2 separate regions of the Homo sapiens genome follow, and region 2 is linked to region 1. The links come from fine-mapping of genetic effects on plasma protein levels. A gene starts in region 1. The other region holds a variant in brackets. All regions are shown on one strand. Distances are from middle to middle. Region 1 holds the start of TFPI2 (tissue factor pathway inhibitor 2). Region 2 has its middle 18 kb from the start of BET1-AS1.

What was found. A credible set is the group of variants that fine-mapping cannot tell apart. PIP is the posterior inclusion probability: the model's chance that the variant is causal. Protein levels are from antibody-based Olink assays in UK Biobank. Linkage for the fine-mapping came from a reference panel and not from the study's own genotypes, which makes the PIPs less certain.
Region 2: its variant is the best candidate, but not a certain one, in a credible set for the plasma level of the TFPI2 protein (UK Biobank, PIP 0.54).

The regions. Positions count from the first base shown.
Region 1 is chr7:93,885,162-93,894,989 of GRCh38, forward strand. It overlaps TFPI2 (tissue factor pathway inhibitor 2), which reads right to left and starts at 5,592. Exons shown (of 5, transcript NM_006528.4): 1 at 5,430-5,592; 2 at 4,976-5,158; 3 at 3,874-4,062; 4 at 2,100-2,270; 5 at 235-1,735. The coding sequence starts at 5,517. The coding sequence ends at 1,659. TFPI2-DT (TFPI2 divergent transcript) reads left to right here and starts at 5,733. Exons shown (of 2, transcript NR_134235.1): 1 at 5,733-5,918; 2 at 8,081-8,427.
Region 2 is chr7:93,945,895-93,955,722 of GRCh38, forward strand. No RefSeq gene overlaps it. Among named protein-coding and RNA genes, the nearest start is that of BET1-AS1, 18 kb to the right of the region's middle. The variant T/C (reference allele first, on the strand shown) is at 4,086.

The sequences.
Region 1 (9,828 bases):
TGCAATATAATTCATCCATGTAATAAAAAACCACTTGTAACTCCAAAACTATTCAAATAAAAAGTAATAACAAATTTAAAAATGCATTTTGAGATTTCTTCAGAATTTTTTCACCTTTATATTCCCCAAAAGACATTCTCATATTAATTTGTGAAGTCATTGAAAATAAGTATATATCTTTTGTGTAGTTTTGCCACTATTTGGTATTCAGTTGGGTTTGAATGCTTAAAGAAATGCTTTTTCTTTTTTATTTAATTTTGATTATTAATTATGTCAAATATTTACATGGTCCAAGATAAAAACTATATCACAGTTATATTTACACAAATATTATCTCCACAACTGTCCACCCCTCTGTTCTCTCCAAACCTCTATAGGTAAACATTTTTAATATCTTTAGTATCTTCTGTGATGTTTGTGTATATGTGTGTTTATTCATACTGTTCTAGGCCCTGTGTTTCTTATGTATCCTGGGAGTCAGAAGATATGCATATATAGATATTTTGCTAACTCCTCATCCATAAAATCTTCAACCAGTCCCTGACTGAAGAGTACCTGGTTTGCTTCTAGCTTTCAGCATCATTCAAAGTTCTCAGGCATATACCTATTTGTCAAAATAACTGGGATAAATTTTTAAATGAAAGATTGTTCAAGCAAAAGGTAAACGCATTTGTCATTTTGCATATTTAATTTGTAATTAAATATGTTAATCTTGCTATGAAAACATAAGAATTTAGAAAAATTGTTTTATTACAGAGAAAGAAAAAACCTATTTCATTGGTATGACCATATTTAATCAATGATAATTTACTGGTGAAATTTAAATTATTAAATTTATGCATGGTTTCTCATGCATGGTTTATATAAATAAACACCTTAAACAGTATAAACATTTGAAAAACTTTACTTTCCTTGGTTTTTTATAAGTTTAGTGGTCTCCAACCCACAATGTCTTAGGAAATAATTTAACAATAGGAAAACCCTTAAAACCATCTATCTCTATGTAAACACAAACATATACATGTGAGTGGGGATTGGTAGATAAATAGATAGAAATTGCTTTCCCAGAGGAGAACATTTCTGGCTTTAATAAATTGATTAGCTTTTTAAATCAGTCAAGAAAGTTAAGATCTTTTAAATAAATCCCCTTATTCATTCATTGTACTGCAATCTAACACAATAAAATGGGAGTAATATTTTTAAAGTGTTGTTAATCTGCGACTTTGTCTTCTTGGGACTAAAATATAATCCAACTTTTAAATGCAAAATGAGTTTTATTTGCTAGTCCTTTTTATTCTCAAATATGTTAAAAGCACATGATTATATTGTCTTATGTTGTTTCAGTTATGATCCTCTTCTGAAATCAGGAATACGACCCCAAGAAATGAGTGAGTCATATTTGCTTTTATATCTTATGCATTGCAAGAATTCAGTCTCACAAACAGTTGAACCATAAATTAAAAATGGTAGACTCACATTTGAATAGCAGCTAGTTATATATAAAAAAATCCAAATTTTTTAAAAAGTGACTTGTATTAATAAAAACTGGTGAATAAATCACCAATGATTTGTTTCCTCATGCTGTCATATTATTCTTCAGATACAACCATAAAGGCAAATAAGCCATAAAGACAAACAAGATGACATATTAAGAATGTTTAAAATTGCTTCTTCCGAATTTTCCGGATTCTACTGGCAAAGCGAAGCTTTGGCATCTTCTTTTTCTTTTTCAAAGCTAAAATCAATAAAACGACAATGAAAATCATACATCTCCAGTCTGTAGGCTCACTATAAATCACTATTTCTGATAAGGTTATTGAGCTCACTTCATCTTATTTTTAAGGACTGTGAAGTCAAAACTCATTATACACTCAGTTAATAATATTTTACCTTTAAGATATGAAGATACAGCTACCGTCTACTGCAGCTAGCCAGTAAAAGCATTTTGACAAAACTGATTAACACTACGGAGATACTTATGTAGAAGTAGTCTAGAAACAGCAATTTGCTATTAGTAAAATGGATAAATAAAAATATAATTTTTCTGATAAGTTATTTATAAAGTTTATCTAAAGGTGGAATAAGAAAACATTCACTACCTTTTGCACATGCACGTTTGCAATCCTCCCTGCTAACAAAGTTATTGTCATTCCCTCCACAGCCAGTATAGGTGAAAGCATCACAGGTTCTGTATCTTGGATTAAAATAATAGCGAGTCACATTGGCAGAGCACAGTCCCTCATCTTTTGGACTGTAGCAAAATGATGGAACTTTATAAAAAAGAGAAGAAAATTAGAAATGTTATAATACCAGAATTTTTAAATTATGGTGATTACTGAAGTAACTGAAGAAAATCTAATCCCATAGAAGCCTCAGTCTGAATCCAAAATATCATACTAAACCTTTAAAAAGATGTGCTTCAAATTGCAGGTAAGCTTACATGCTATATTTTGGTAATTCTAAATTTTTGTAAACTGGATAGAATTTCTTCTGAAGCTACATCTTTGTATCCTTTAAATGTAAAAAGAAGTTAAACCCAAATACCAGATATGGTTAGGTAAAAATGGGGTAAGTTTCAAGGACAATATGTGGCATGATTTGGTAAATTTTGTCGTGTTGGTAGTTTTGCTTTAATGTTTTTAACAGCTCTCATTCCATTATTAATCAATAATATATGCATACTAATTTCCAGGTAACCACTGGAGCAAACATTTATATGTACACAAACAAGAGAACATCCACAGTAACCATCACCACATTAACTCAAGATTTTGCATATTCAACACAGTACAGCTATAAAGCTTTATCAAATTCTCTGCCAAAGCAAGTTTTCCTTGTTTGTTGAACTTTTCAAAAATCTCTGTGTCTGGGGGAAATGCCTGTATTGTCTCCCTCTGCAAACATTAAATACTACTCAAGAGACTATCATTTCAAGGATTCAGGGGTGGTGGTGGGAGAGGTAACAAATGGATAGGACAGAAACGTGTGGAGATGTTTGTGCTGCAATTTGCAATTACTGAAGAATACAGAAATCTAACCGAAAACTTTAGAAAGAAATTTTCAAGTTTCACCATCTTAATTCTGTATATATTCCACTATCTCACATGTATAACTTATTGTGTACAAATCTGAGGTCATAACATTCATTAATGAATACTTTAATCTTTTATGCATAAATTGAGTAGCTGAGAAATAGTTCTAAAGAAACAATTCAGGGCTGGGCGTGGTGGCTTACACCTGTAATCCCAGCATTTTGGGAGGCCGAGGTGGGCAGATCATGAGGTCAGGAGATCAAGACCATCCTGGCTTACACGGTGACACCCCGTCGAAAGAAAAAAGAAAGAAAGAAAGAAAAGAAAGAAAGAAGGAAGGAAGGAAGGAAAGAAGGAAGGAAGGAAGGAAGGAAGGAAGGAAGGAAGGAAGGAAAGAGAAAGAAAGAAAGAAAGAGAAAAAGAAAGGAGAGAAAGGAAGGAAGGAGAGAAAGAAAGAGAAAGAGAAAGAAGAAAAAAAAAAAAATTAGCTGGGCATGGTGGCGGGCGCCTGTAGTCCCAGCTACTCAGGAGGCTGAGGCAGGAGAATCGCTTGAACCCGGGAGGCAGAGGTTGCAGAGAGCCGAGATTGTGCCACTGCACTCCAGCCTGGGCAACAGGGCGAGAGTCCGTCTCAAAAACAACAAATCAGAAGAGGCAGAAAGCAAAAATTTGAATCATGGCTTTGTCACTTTCCAGTCCTAAGAACTTGACAAGTCACTAACTTGTCAAGTAATGTGAAATCATGAAAATGCACATGTTAATTTCGCATCAAATTGAGTTTTTTCCACCCAAATGTCTTTTCAAAAAAGTGAAATAGAAATACCATAAAAATCGTATTTACTTTTCTTTGGTGCGCAGAAGCCCATACAAGTAGCTTCATCTGGAAACCTGTTCTCAATCCGGTTCCGGTGACACCCACCGGAAAAGAATTTTTCACATGTCATGGAACTTAGATTAAAGAAATACTTTTCTGTGGACCCCTCACACTGGTCGTCCACACTCACTTGCAGCCGGCAAACTTTGGGAACTTCTAGGAAAAGGAGGGTAATAGAACAATGTTAGTCAAAAGTAGCCTTCTTATTAAACCATCACTGTATTTTCAGCAACATTTTGTGGGGGGAGAGAAGTTGTATTAGTGTTGGGATAGTAAATACCCAGAATACTCCCATGAATCCAGATATTTACTTTTTTTTTTTCTAACAGTGTATTCAGAGCTGACTCAGCTGTGATGTATCTTTCAAGTTCAGTAGAAAGACTCTCTGTTTTCTCTGGGTGTTCTCTGATTGTACATATGCAGTGAATCAAAGCTTATTCACATGAATACGCATTTTCCCCTGGCTCAGTTCCTTGAATGGAAAAGCCCCATGTTCTCTTACAGGCCTTAACCGATATAATTTAAAAATTAAAAATAAATTAAAATATAACAGTATTATGAATCTCCACCATGTCCCGCAACTAATCCAACACATGTTTGGGTATCGGGACAAAAGTAGAGTTATATAATGAGCTAAGTCACACTTCAATAATAAAATCCACTAAAAATATTTCAGATTGATGGATAATCGACAGAAGGAAATGATGTACTCCAGGAGAGATAAAAATCATAGGTTTGGAATTAATGAAAAATACAGAGAAGCACTTACGTTGTACCTAACACGTTATTCTCTTGCATTTATTATACCCCATGGTGAGGGAACAAATCTTTCCCTGAGTCCGCACAGGCACTGAATTATGATCAATGTCAGTTGGGAGACAGGAAATGTGTTAGTGGTTGTAAATTTGTGATTACTTTTAAGAAACTGAAAACCATGAGGTTTGCTTAACACTTGAGAAAACCCAGGCTAAAACTTCCTGTAGAAAGCGAGACGTGGGAAACTGGCGAAGCTGCTACCAGCCGCCGGCGCAAGGAGCGCGAGAGTCCTGGGTGCGCGCAGGGCACTTACTTTCTATCCTCCAGCAAGCATCGTCGCAAGCCTCCCAGGTGTAGAAATTGTTGGCGTTGCCCTCGCAGCCCCCGTACAGGAACTGGCGGCAGCTCTGCGTGTACCTGTCGTAGTAGTAACGGAGAAGTAGGGCCCGGCAGGGTCCGTAGTCTAGGGGCAGGAGACAGATCTCCGCGTTATTTCCTGAAGAAGGGGCAGAAGGAGAGCAAAAGAGAGGGAAAGTGGTCAGGCGTAGCTCCTAGGAGGAAAGAACATCCCGGGGAGTTCTGTCCCCTTCCGAGCGGAGGGGCCTCTGCAGAGAAAGTGCAAACTTGGGAGCGAGTCCCCCCTGCCAGCGGAGCGCGCGGCAGGGACCTGGAGAAAGCGAGGCTTGGAGGGCGCCTACACGGGGCCCCATGGCCCGCTGCGCCCTCTCCGCCGGTTGGGGAGAGAAGCTCCTGGAGCGGCCAGATACCTGTTGGCTCCTGAGCAGCATCGCCCAGTGCAGCCTCCGTCAGGAAAAGCAGCAGAATCGACAGCCCCAGGGGGCGAGCGGGGTCCATGGTGCAGGGGGTCGGGCGGCCCGCTGGGCAAGGCGTCCGAGAAAGCGCCTGGCGGGAGGAGGTGCGCGGCTTTCTGCTCCAGGCGGCCCGGGTGCCCGCTTTATGCGGGGCGAGCGTCCGGCCGACCCCCGCCGGGGCGGAGCCTGAGGGGTGGCTGATTCATGCACGGGGACTGTCACCCCGCCGCCCCCGCGCTGCAAACTGTGTAAGAGGGAGAGGAATTCCCCGCCAAGTTGAAAAGTTGAACCTGCCTCCCAAACTTTCTCCTGTAGTCCAGACGGGGACGCCCTGAGGGAGCGTTTGTGTCAGTAATGGGAAATCTGCAAGCTAGACGGAAATGACCTGCTAGTGATTGCGCTGTAAAGAAGCCGGAATCCACCTCTTGAAGGCATGAAGTTCAGGTATTTGAAAGGCTGGTGGAGAGAAAGTGCGGAGTTCTTGGGTCAGAGCGGAGCGGGATTCGTTGCAATGGACCTTCAGATTAGATTAGAAATGTAAATAAGTGTATATTTATATTTATACACACAGATTTCAATCGAGTTCTAATTTACATTTAATACAGGCTTATAATATATCGTAGGTGGACAGTTTGATAAATTTTGACAACTGTGTAGCCACCAATAAAGAATTAGAACATTTTGGCTGGGCGCGGTAGCTCGCGCCTGTAATCCCAGCACTTTGGGAGGCCAAGGCGGGTGGATCACCTGAAATCAGGAGTTCGAGACTAGCCTGGCCAACATGGCGAAACCCCGTCTCTATTAAAAACACAAAAAATTAGCCGGGCGTGGTGGCGGGCACCTGTAGTCCCAGCCCCTCGGGAGGCTGAGGCAGGAGAATGGCTTGAACCCAGGAGGCGGAGGCTGCAGTGAGCCCAGATGGCGCCACTGCACTCCAGTCTGGGCGGCAGAGTGGAACTCCGTCTCGAAACGAAGAAAAAGAAGAAGAAGAAGAAAAAAAAAAGAGTTAGAACATTTCCATCACTCCAGAAAGCTCCTGCAGACTTTTTCCTAAATCAATCCTTCCATCCTTAGGCCAGGGGCAAACACTCTTCTCATTTCGATTACCATAGATTAGATTTGCCTATTCTTGAATTTCATATAAACGGAATTATAAAGTATTCACTGTGTAGTATTTCTTTCTCACACTTCCTGTTTTTGAGATACGCCCAGGTCACTGCATCAATAGTCTGTTTCTTTTAATTCCTGCGTAGTCCAAGGTATGAATTTACCAAAACGTATGAATATCCCACAATGTATAAATATGTTGCTGTGTGTATCAATAGTCTGTTCCTTTAAATCATTGAGTAATATTCTAATATATCACAAATGTCTTATTACTGGAATTTGTGTTGTTTCTAGTTTGTTTGGGGGCTCTTATGAAAAAAGCTGCTTTGTGTGGACCTGCAATTTTTATTACTCTTGGATAAAATACTTAGAAATGTTAGACACTGCCAAAGGATTTTTTCAAGATGATTGTACCATTTTACACCCCAACCAAGCATGTATGAAGCTATGTTTTTGTATGTATCTATGTTTTTGGAGAAGAACCATAGCAGCCCAGAGAGATAGCCTTGGGGAGTTCTGAAGATTTGACCAGATCAGTGTATTCCCACACATTTCCTAATGTCAGTGCATCCATTAAAGTTCCCTGTTCCTTTGACATATTAGCTTGTGATCCACTTTTTTTTTTAATACAAACAATTACCTACAGTGAAATTTTACATAAAATATTAAAGATATTTTTGAAGACATTTTAATATACTTGTCTTCCCTTCCCCTTTTCTCTTGTTGTATTCAACATTCTCAAGTAAATAATTATTCTTGACTTCTGAGGATACTGGGGGTAGTTTACAGAAGTTCTCTTTCAAGTTTTCAGGAAGCCCTGAAAAGTATAGGACACACTTGCTCAAAGTGGGTTAATAATCTGAGGTATTTTGCACATTATATCCTTGTGCCAGTTTTCAGTCATTCTGATGTCATGTTACAAGGTCACAGTCCTAGGAAAACCAGCCTGATCTGGAAATGCTGTCAGCTTTGATTAGCAGATGTCTATGATTAAGAATGATAGTTGAAACTATAAGGATAAATGTTTAATTATCACCTCTCCAGTAGGGAAAAATAAATGGGATGGGGATGCTTTGTATAGTTAACTGATTTCTGTGATGTAAATGTGCTCACTAAGGTCAATTTCAAGCTGCCACTGCAGAATCACTGAATGCCGAGGTGGGAAAAGATCTCCAAGAGCCAGAGCTCCCCATGGCCAAAATCTGTGTGAGCTGGCTCTAATGCACCAACCACTGAGACAGACAGCCAGTTTTGGAATGACACATTCAGAGTAAAGTCAGATTAGACCCTCCCAGTTCCTTCAAAATATTATTAGGGGAGGGAATTTTACCACTCATTTACCGAGAATCATATTCAGGAGAAAAGTTGACTCAACTTCAAACTTACCTATATCTATCTTCTGAATAAAATTAAATATATCTTTAGACTAAAATAAAATTCAAGGACTGATACTCAGTTTTCATGGAGCACTGACTACTGCCATTTCTCTTTGTTCTCAGGTGCTGGACACTTTTTGATTGTCTTTCGCTCATACAAAAAAAAAAATGAACCACTGGACACAATGGCTTCTGCTAGTAATCCCAACACTTTGGGAGGCTGAGACAGGAGGATCGCTTGAGGCCAGGAGTCAGAGACAAACCTGGGCAACATAGTGTGATTCCATCTTTACAAAAAAAAAAATTTTAACTTAGCTGGGCATGGTTGTGTACACCTGTAGTCCCAGCTATATGGGAGGTTGAGATGGAAGGATTGGTTAAGCCCAGGAGTTTGAATTTGCAGTGAACTATGGTCGTGCCACAGCACTCCAGCCTGGATGACAGAGTGAGACTCTGAATCTGACTAAAAAGAAAAAAAAAAAAAGATTAGCCCTTTTGTATCAAGACAGACATTTTGGGAAATTGCATCGTGCCATGGAAAAATAGAGTTGGAATTCAGAGGATACCTGGATTTTATTCCTTGCTACATTGGACAAGTTACTTAAAACTCTCTGAGCCTCAGTTTCCTTTTCTAATAGACATAATAACTCTACCTCGCAGATGTGTTATGAGGATTAAATGGAAAATGCCTATGCATTCAAAGATATTGTTTTAGCCCCTCACACAATGGCACAAACTTCATCCAGATCATCCCATATCCTACTTCCCATTGAGAGCCTTGGCACACAATTTTGAGATGGAGCATCAAACTCCCATCAGGAAACAGAGCAACATGAAATGGCCTTATAGAATTAAAGCCCATGTCCTTGCTCCTGTCAGCTCTTCTCTTAACTAAGCTCAGAGACCACCTCTCTGCCCATGAAGTTGTCACACTTTCTGGTAGTCTCTTCTAGGGAAATGAGCTTCAAGGGGATTTCAGAGCAGAATCCTCAGCCCACTCAGGGCTGCTGTATAAGGCATGTAGTGGAAATGGGAGGGGGGCAAAAACAGGCCTCTCACCCTTCTGTGGTGTGGTCTGTAGATGCAGGTTGGAATCAGTCCCGAGAGATGCTCTAGAAATGCTGGTTTCCTTCTACTTTTCTATGCCAAACAGGGTGCATCCTTAAAACCTCTATGACCACAGATGGAGAAAGGAGAATTAAAGAAGTGGAATTGGCAGAAGTTTGAGATTACTAACCCAGGTTATTACAAAAAAAGTATTCCTCTTAATTGCATAAATAATTGAGTATTTTTATATCCATGAAAAAGACATCTTCCAATATAAGGGTAATCTGAATTTCCTGGAGACTACTTTGACGTTACTGAATTTACATTTAGAATATTTTGGAAGGAGCAACATGACCACCACAATCAGCCTCCAAAGGGATGTCATAGCACTTCTATCTCCTTAATCCAGTGTCTAGCCCAAAATGCTGCCTCAAGGCTGAGGAAAGTAATTCCTTTGTCCAAAGTCAACAGGAAGTGCAAGGCTAGAGATAACTGGGAAAAACAGTCATCCAGATTGATTTGTCATTGCTACACCAATTGACAGTTAAATTGTCTGTGGCTAAAGACAAAGGCTCAAAATAGTCTGGAGTTCTGTAAAAATAAGGCATGGAGTTGTAATTTGAATGCTGAATGGAACTATAAGTATGTTCACTTTACACAAGTGTGAACTGAGATCTAGAAAGGTTAAGCATCTGGTCATGTTTACCTGCCATGGTTGTTGGCAGACCTGAGACTAGAATCCACAGTTCTGGATTCTTAGTCCTATATTCTTTCTATCACACCTAGACCTAAGTTCTTTCTACCATACCAAGACCTTAAAGCAG
Region 2 (9,828 bases), 61 kb after region 1:
CTGCCTAATACATGGCTATTTTAGGAGACATATAACTGCATGTGATCTGATTCCTCCCTTATCTTTCTTTTCCAGTAGTGTCTGCAAAGTTTATCTCATCCAGTTTGAATAGACTTCTGAGCACATCGCTCTCAGGTCTTCACAGCTAATCTATTTTCAACCACGATATAACTTCCTATATCCAAGACAAGGTGTCCTTCCTTTTTAAAATAACTTATCTTTCCCAGTTCCTTTAATTCCTTTAGTTTCTTCCGTTTTCCTAAATGTTCATCACTTAGTCACTTCTTTACCTTATTATGTCTCTTCTCTCCAATAATTGCCCCTCCTCACTAAAAATATGCTGTCAGTTTTTCCTTGGCTTTAACCAAGCATGCAAAGCCACAGACTTTTCACCAATTCTACTCCCTACTTAAACTAGCACATTATAACATTTTTCCCCCTTTAACCACAATGTCTGTTAAAACACCAGGCTGTTTCATCAATCTCTTCTTAATTCCTTGCAAGGATTTTTAAACTCTTGGAATTTGCCAAATGCTTTCTTTTCCTTTTAGCCTCTCAGTAGCATTCTTGACCTGCTCCGTTTCTCTGGCTTATCTAGCCCTGCACAAAATGAATTTCTTCTTTGCTTGTTCTTTTTGTGTTTCCTTTGTTAACATTTTATATAATTCCTAAGGCCTTATTCTTGACTTTCTTCTCTTCCCCTTCTCTACGTCCTTCTCTTTGGAAAACTCAACTTTGAAATTTTCAGCTATCATCTCTTTACAGCTTTCAAATTAATGTGAGTACTCCAGGCTTCACTCTTAGAGGTGAGTTTCACATTTTCAACTCCCCTTCTGAACATAAACAGTGACTTTCTTTTTCCAATTACTTTTAACCTTAAGGAGACTTTTTAACCTGTGTTTTCATCTGTTGCATATCAGGCATGCCAAATTTAGTTGCTGTCCTTCAGTGTGTTTTCTGGGCCCCATTCTTCCTCCCGGTTCCATTGTCTTCTCGATTAAAGCTTTTATCACCCCAAAACAGAAAGCTTAAAATAGTTACATTGCAGCTTCATATTCCTGTCTCTATAGTCTTTTTTCTGAAAGCCACCTTGCAAAAGATCTTTAGGTTTGCCATCTTAAACCACTGTTTTAAAACCATATGTCTCTTGTCGAAAACCATCATGGGATTGCTATTATCTACTGAATGAGAACTGGGCTCCTTATTCTGACAGCCAAATTCTCCATAAGCCAGGCTTAACCTACCTTTAAAGCTTGTGCTCATGTCAAGCACACTACTTGCTGATTCCAAAATTTGCCTTGATTTTTTTTTTATGAGTGTGCACTTTTGTTTTGCCACTTTAGATTTCTGGAATTAATTCTTCTACTTCTATATTCCATCTTTTAAAATTCTACTCAATCTTTAACAGCCAACTCAAACAACTTCAGCATTAGCCTTGAGGTAGAGGTGTGACCAGGTCCATCCAGGTGGGGCACTGACCAAGAAAGAAAAAGAAGGAGGCAGTCGAGGGACATCTCTGAAGGGGCATAAGATTTATGTCCAACAAAGACATGGATGCTAGCTAATACCATGGGATTGCTTAAGGTGAGTTGTAAAAGTGAGCAGAAGAGAGACTTGACATGGCCTGAAGGCAGGCTAATAGTTATCTTGGGAGTAGGAAGAAGAAACATGCAAAAGACACCAGCAAGTTGTGGTCAAATACAGGAGAAAAGCCAGGAAAATGTGATATGATACAAGTCAAAAGAAGAAAGTTTTTCAAGAGGAATGTAGTATTTGATATTTTCCAATGTTCCTAAGAAATCAAAAGAGATGAAAATCAAAAACAAAAACAAGTGGGTGGTGGGGAATAGAATTTAGTGACATGGGCCACTGGGAACATTGATGAGAGCTCTTTTGGTGGAGTGGTAAAGGGTCAAGCCAGATTAGTGTTGGCTAGTGATCAAGAGATGAAGAAGTGGAGACAGCAAAAATGTATAATATTTCTGGAGAGCTTGTTGTGGCTGAAAGAGAATGAGGAACGAATCTTCTTTCTTGGGAGTGGCTGGAGGTAGCTTAAAAGCCATTAAAAATATTCAGGTTTAATGGGAAAGTTAGAAGATAATGCAAAGAGAAAAAACATTTGAGTAAAGTTCCTAAGATAGGGGGAGAGGATAAGCTCAAAAGTCAGGAGATTTAGTGTGAGCAAGGAGCAGGCCACCTCCTGTCTTGCAAAAAGACAAAGAGTAGACATGGGTGAGGAGAAAAGACATGTGTGTTTGGTGGCTTAGAGCATGTGATTTAGAGATTGAAGAAATGTCCAATTGATGGCATCTATTTTCCCTTTGAGATAGTAAGTGACATCAACCTCTGACACCAAGGAAGAAGTGGGAAGTAGTAGGGATGGGAGTTTCAGGAGAATGTAAACGGTTTGAAACAGTCATTGCAGAGTAATGTCATTGCAAAGTAATTTGAAAAAAAAATTATTGGAATGCCAGAAAAGAATGTAAATGAAGAAAGACTCAATATGTGGGTTTATTAAGGACTGGTTTGTTAAGACCAGTGTGATCAAAATATGGGACATAAGTACATTTAGAATGTGGCCAAGAATGTTTTTTGGGGATTTTTTGTTTTTGTTTTTGTTTCTGTTCAGGGATAGAGTCTTACTCTGTTGCTCAGGTTGGAGTACAGTGACAAGATCATGGCACACTGCAGCATTGACCTACCAAGCTCAAGCAATCCTTCTGCCTCAGCTTCTCAAACATCTGGGACTACAGTTGTCCACCACCATGCCCAGCTAATTTTTTTGAGTTTTTGCAAAGATAGGGGTCTCACTGTGTTGCCTAGGCTGATCTTGAACTCCTGGGCTCAAGCAGTCCTCTTGCCTCCCAAAGTTCTGGGATTACAAGCATGAGCCACCACACCTGTCCTCAAGATTGTTATTGGAATGGTGGAATATATATTGTGAAGAGGAAAATGAAGGAAGAAAAGGCCAGTAGGTTTAACAAAAAAAGAAAGAAAGAGAGAAAAAGGAAGAAGGAAGGAAGGAAGGAAGGAAGGAAGGAAGGAAGGGAGGGAGGGAGGGAGGGAGGGAGGAAGGGAGGGAGGGACGGAGGGAGGGAGATAAGGAGGGAGGGAGGGAGGGAAAAAGGGAGAGAGGGAGAAAGGGAGGGGTGTAATTGGATTGGCAGTCCTGATGAGATTCAAGAAGGGTCTCTGATGCCTTACCTGATTACTCCCATCTGGAAGCTGTTTTTTATCTAGCTTCCCCAATCACGGTTGTTTGAACTGCTTATTATTGAGATGTTATCCACCATATACTGCCCTATTTCAATATGGTATGCTAGCTCACTTATGTGGGCTGGATGTGTAGTACAAGTGTCTACACACTTAAACTTACTCATGATAGGTAATCAATAAATATTTGTTGAATGAATGAATAAGAGAAGGGAAGAAGAACAGAAAGGATGAAAGTAAGAACAATATACTTTAGCTTAGTCTTTTGTTTACAGATTGTTGTCAACACATATCTTACTGATTATATTTCCTTTTCTTGCAACTTTTAAGAATGAGTATATGGTATTTTAGTCATTTAGTGATCAAAAGATTGATCAAAAGATTAGATTAGGTTACTCAAACCAACAAATGTTTTATTTGACCATTAAACATAAATTTGTGCTCTCTTTTTATTCACAACATGAGGCAGAAAATTGTGAAAGTTTCTAGTAATTACAATTCAATCCAGAGAGCCAGTCTGGGAGTGAGTCACCCCCTTGTCTGGACAGTAAGTGTCCATTATTTACGTCAATATGCTCTGTGGCTGTGCCTGCAGCTAACCCTGAATGATAGCAAATGTCTGCTTTTCCAATTCTTTTTCAATTTCCTTCTTTAAGAAGAAAACAATTGAATGTAACAGGATAGAACTACACTGAACATCACTATTAAGATAATGGCTTACTGAGTTTGTTGTTCATGACATGAATGCTGTTCCTGTTACACTAATAATTAGCCATCTGCTAAAATGTGAATTTTTCCATTTTGAGCTATGAATCTGTAAAGAATATGAGCACATTGATTTACTTCCTTTGAATTTTTTTATTACAATTGTA[T/C]TGATATCTTTCAGTCCAGTTTTCCTTCCTTAACTTAAACGTATCCCTTTCCTCTTTAAGGATATTTCATGCAGCGTCAAGATACATACAAAGTAAAAAGCTTAAAATTTTTTTAAAAAACTGTCCATTAGATTGTGAAGTGCTATTTTAGTGACAATACTAAATCGATATTTGTTGTGTTATGGCTGAATTGAGTGAATTTTTCACTTGCCTAGTTAATTTTCTGTATGTGAAAAGAGTAGATCTCTTTTACTGAATACATCAAAGTTTACATGCATGATGCCTAATGGCCTAATTGAGGTAAACAACATTACGCTCCATGAGTAGAACTTCAGTCTCTTTTGTTTCTGGTACTAAGACTAATTCTTTATTTTAGGAATTATTATTATTATTATTTCGGTCATTATCATCATCATCATCACAATAGTCATTATCATATCTGGGACCTCAAGGCCCTTGCCATCACCAGGAGGTGACGATGAGTATCTCTTTTTATAAAGTACTCTTAAAGGCCTCATGATAGATGTGATTTAATATACATCCTTCAAGGGGACAAATCCTCCCCAACTGCATTCCTCTTGTTTATCCATTTTTTGAAGATTTTCAGATTTCTAGAGAATAGTTATTGTGGTGTGGTATGAAAAAGAATGAGGAAAAGATTTGAATTCAGAGTGGTTCAGGTTCAAATTTTGTGTGTATTAGTTGTTTGATTCTGACTAGATTATTTTGGCTTTGTAAATATCAGTTTCCTCATCTGCAGATTAGGGATAATTGCTACCTGACATGATTCATTTATTCAACATCTGTTTCTTGGAAATCTAGGTACTAGGTAGGTCCTGTGAACAAGGTAAATGGTTGATGACTTTGTGAAACCTACAACTTATGGAAGACATCAAGCAAATGATTTTAATTTGAGTGGCAGTATATACAATGTTTAAGAACTGAAAGTCTGGGCCCTATCTACCTGGGTTCAAATCTCAGCTCTGGCCCTTACTGGCTGCAGCAGTTTAAATTGCCTAATCTTATTTTGACTCAGTCTCCTCCTCCTTTTATGGATAAAGGTGGGTTTTCTTTTTTCTTCTGATGAGAGGACTCAAGTTCAGAAAGCTTGAAATAAAGTTAGGGGTAGCTCATAACTCAAGATGGCATTTTAAGGAAAAAATACCTTCATCCTTCAGAAACCTGAACAGAAGTGGAAAAATAACTGCAGTTCTTTAAATAAGCTTTTGAATTTGAAGGTCTGTGTTGGAAACATGACTGGGACACTAAGGTCCAGTTGGAACCACTGAGTCACCACCTAAATGTATGTGTTTTACTGACCTCTGATGCTGCATGGAAAGACCAGGCTTCATTCAGACATATACATGAAGTAGGACAAGATAAAAAGGAATCCTGATGTGAATAACAGATCAGATACATGCAAACACATGATCACACAGTTGGGAACGTGTATTGCTGCTGCAAACATTTTCAGTCTATGAAAATAGAAAAACATTATCCATTCTTTAGAGAGAAGGAAAATAATGAAAATGTTTAAAACTTTTTATGATTCAAAATCTCTCTTTTCCTGTCTTAAAATATTCAGAATGCCATTAAATTAAGAAAAATATTTATTGAATATTTAATTTTGCCAGGATAAAATTTAATTACTTTATATCATGTCATAAAGTTTTACAGCATGTAGTTACTTGTAGCATTTATGACAAGATGAATGAAAAATTTGAGTAATTACTTTTTTTGCAATCTTTTTCGTAGTACTTGTTTTGTGCCGGGAACTGTTCTAAGAGTTCTAAGTATAACATTCCACAATTACGTAGGAAGTTAATTGTTGGTTTTTTAATAGATTTCTTTGATCAGATTTAGAATTTTCTCTTCCAGTCCTACTTTGATGGGAGATTTTCAACATTAACAGGTATTGAATTTTGTCAAATGCCTTGTCTGCACCTATTAAATGGATCATATAATATTTCTATTTATTTCATTAATACTACTAATTGCAGGGTTGATTGATTTTGTGTTGTCAATCTAACTTGGTGTTTCTGGAATAAACTTCACTTAGTCATGATGTATTATCTTTTTCTCTGTTATTAGATTAAATTATCTAGTATTTTGTTTAAAATTTTCATATATAATTTTACGTAGAATATTGGTCTATGGCTTCCTTTCCTTACAATATTTTCATCAGGTTAGTAGTAGGGTTATGCAGGCCTCCTGAAATTAGTTCAAAACCATTTCCTTTTCCTTAATTTTTGCAAAATGTTTTTGTATCATTTCTATTATTTCATTCTGCAAACTTAATAATATTCATGAGGGGAGGTGTTTGGGCCTAGTGTTATCTTTGTTTATGATGATGAATTCAATTTATTTAATATAGTGGTTTTAGTAGTTCTTAAGTTTTAGTATGCATCACCACCATTGGGAGGGTTGTCAAAACACAAATTGTTGAGCCTTCCTCAAAGCTTCTGTAGGTCTAGAGTGGGGCCAAAAAATTTGCATTTCAAATAAGTTCCCAAAAGATGCTGTTGCTGTTGGTCTTCCAACCATGCTTTGAGAACCACTGCTTGCATAGATAGAGGACCATTGAGCTGATGATGCTCTTGGTAAATAATAACAATAAATATTTATTATTTTTAATTTTAATATGTGTTCCATGCTGATACGATTTGTGTCCCCATCCAAATCTCATCTTGTAGCTCCCATAATTGCCATGTGTTGTGGGAGGGACCCAGTGGGAGATAATTGAATCACGGGGCCAGGTCTTTGCTGTTCTCTTGATAGCGAATGAGTCTTGCGAGATCTGATAGTTTTAAAAAGGTGAGTTTCCTTGCACAAACTCTCTCCTCTCTTGCCACCACCAAGTAAGAAGTGCTTTTCACCTTTCGCCATGATTGTGAGGCCTCCCCAGCCACGTCGAACTGTGAGTCCAATAACCTCTTTCTTCTGTAAATTGCCCAGTCTCGGTTGGGTATGTCTTTATCAGCAGTGTGAAAACGGACTAATACACATACCTAGTTTTCTTTTGATTGTTTTTTCTTAATGGTATATTTTCTCACTTTTTCATGTATTTTGTATTTTTTTTATTGACAGCTTGTCATTGTGTAAGAAAGATATGCTTAGTGTAAGGTCTGGAGTGCTACAGAATTTTTGTCACTTCTCTTCCTCTACCCTCAGACTTCAACAGGCCTTATTTTCCTGCACCTTACATTGAGTCCTTTTAAGAATGACATCTTTCCCTCTAGGGTAGACAGATCATCACTGCCTCGTACTTGGTGTAAGGGCCATATTTCAAGAAGTTCTTCTCAATTCTGCTTTTTCCTCATTCTTAGGCAAACCTTCCTGCATCCCAGTAAAATTCATCTCAATATTACTGATTGCTTGACACCTTATAATTTCCTTGAGACTTACATTTTTGGCTCTTAATTCAAATGAGTTTTGCCACTGCTCTCTGCTTATTGATAAGATAATTATGTATTCTGCATCTTTGTGTGCTCTCTGGTGATAGATTATAATATAATTGTCCCTGCCAGAGCTGCTTTAGTTAAGTGCCTGGTAGCACAAGTCATTTTCCTCCCCAAGGGTTTGTAAACTTAATCTTCTAAAATCTTTTTGTTGTCCAGTTACTAATAGAATATGCATTTTGGAGAAGGGCAAAAACAGATATACCTAATATTTAGACCTAGTCTCAATGGAGTTCGTCTTTTATGAGAACTTTTATAAAGAAATGGAAGAAATCCCCTCCCCTTGTTAAATTTAAAACAATGAAGGTTTAGTGGGCCATACCTGCTGTTAGTTTGAAAAACATGGTAAAGAGCAGAATTGACTCTATGCCTGAATGTTCTCTCCCTTTTACACACATACAAATGTACACACACATTTTACACACATACAAATGTATAACCAGGAGCCTGTTATTGGTTATTTTCACACTAATTCAACAGAGTTACATCAAGGATTAAGAGAACTGGAAAGATGTCAAAGGATGGGCTATGCAATGTCTAGTGTCCAGTCTAGCTTTTTATTTTAAGTAAAAGAGTTGAGAGACTTGAAAAGCAATTCTGCCAAATGAATTTTTAGAAATTTTATTGATGTTTTGCCCGCATGTAATTCAACAGCAGTGTATAAACAATTCATCATTACAAAGTTATTTATAAATTTATTCAACATTGTTTTTATGAAACAACAATACCCTTTCTTTAACCCTCATCAAAACAAATGATGTTAGGGACTGTCAGCTTTGCACAGTGAGTGTATGACACAACTTCTGCTGAAAACGAAACTGAGTGCACTCAAGGAACACAGAGGAGTAGATGGGGTTCCTGGCATGATGTAAGATAATAATGAAAAATGACTTATGTATTTTTAAGAGTTTCTACTTATTTTATATAACACATTGTAGCAAGAAGTGTTACAGGTATTTACAGAAACGCATGATCTCTTCTGCAAGTTTCCCTATAGCAGTTGTTATTGTTGTTGTTGTTACCTTGCAAGAATTCTCCAGCAAACATGTAATATTTTCAACAGGTGCTTCATGCTCCTAGTACTTGCTATCCTTGAGCTTAAGGGCCTAAGAGACAGAACCAAATATTTAAAAATTCTAGCTTCCATTGGATGAAATAGAAAACTTCAAATTTCACAGGCAGAGCCACAAGGCAAAGATTCTTGGGGATGGGGTGGTCGTAGGGACACTAGAGTGAATCCCTGAGGAATGCAGCTCCTGCTAGATTGATTTAATTTCATTTTATGATGCTGTGCCCTGCTTTGTATACAAGATACATATAATGAAAGTTGTAATCTATCAACATGGTATCAAATATTTCAAAGCATTTGATTTTATCCATTATATGAGTTTTATCTAAATAGAAGTTGGAATCTCTTCTTTTGTCTGATTCTCAAATACTGGTTTGCAGACTTTTCTCCTTGACCTTTTCTTACTTTGAATGCTTTAAATAGAGAAATAGACCTACTTGCGTGGCCCCAACTACAACAAAAACTTTTATGTTTTTGTCACTCTTATGAGTCCATGCCAATGGTACACAGCTATATCTCATACAGCATGCTATAAAATGTAATGATTTTTATCTCTAGCTCCCCTAACATGCTTCTTGTCAAAGGTCATCTGTTGAAGCTAGACACCTAGGAAACACCATTGACCCCTACTCCTTCCTTACTCTTCACATCCAAATGCTTCTCCCAGACCTCTTGGCTTTATGGCATTTTTTTCCTCAAAGTTTTGTTACCAAATGAGATGTAAGTGTTTCTAAGGCAATATTTAGAATACCTAAAATGATTAATTATAAAGGGAGGGATTACTGTTAATATGAGTATAGGTTAATTCTAAAACATAAGAGTTTCATGCATGAGAAGTCTGAAATGAGATTTGAAATATGAGTGAACTTTGGGAGACTGGTATAGGGAGGCAAGGGGAACATTTTCACCTAAGATGAGAGAGCTAGGATACAGTCTCAGGAGGACGAGAAGGGCGGCACTGTCAAATAGTGCAGAAAGAATGGGGTGAACCAGGACTGGAATGAGTCACAGCATCTGAACCCTGGGGAGTCACCAGTGGTCTTGAGTGAACAGTGTCACTGCAGTTGGACATGAAGCCTCAACTGAAACATGAATTATGAAAACAATATGTGAGAATGTAGGAAGAAATTTAATGGTCAAGATAAAGAAGAAACAGAACTGATACCTGCAGAGGAAGTAAAGAGAAGTTTTCCTTAATGAAAAGCAGTTTTTCAGC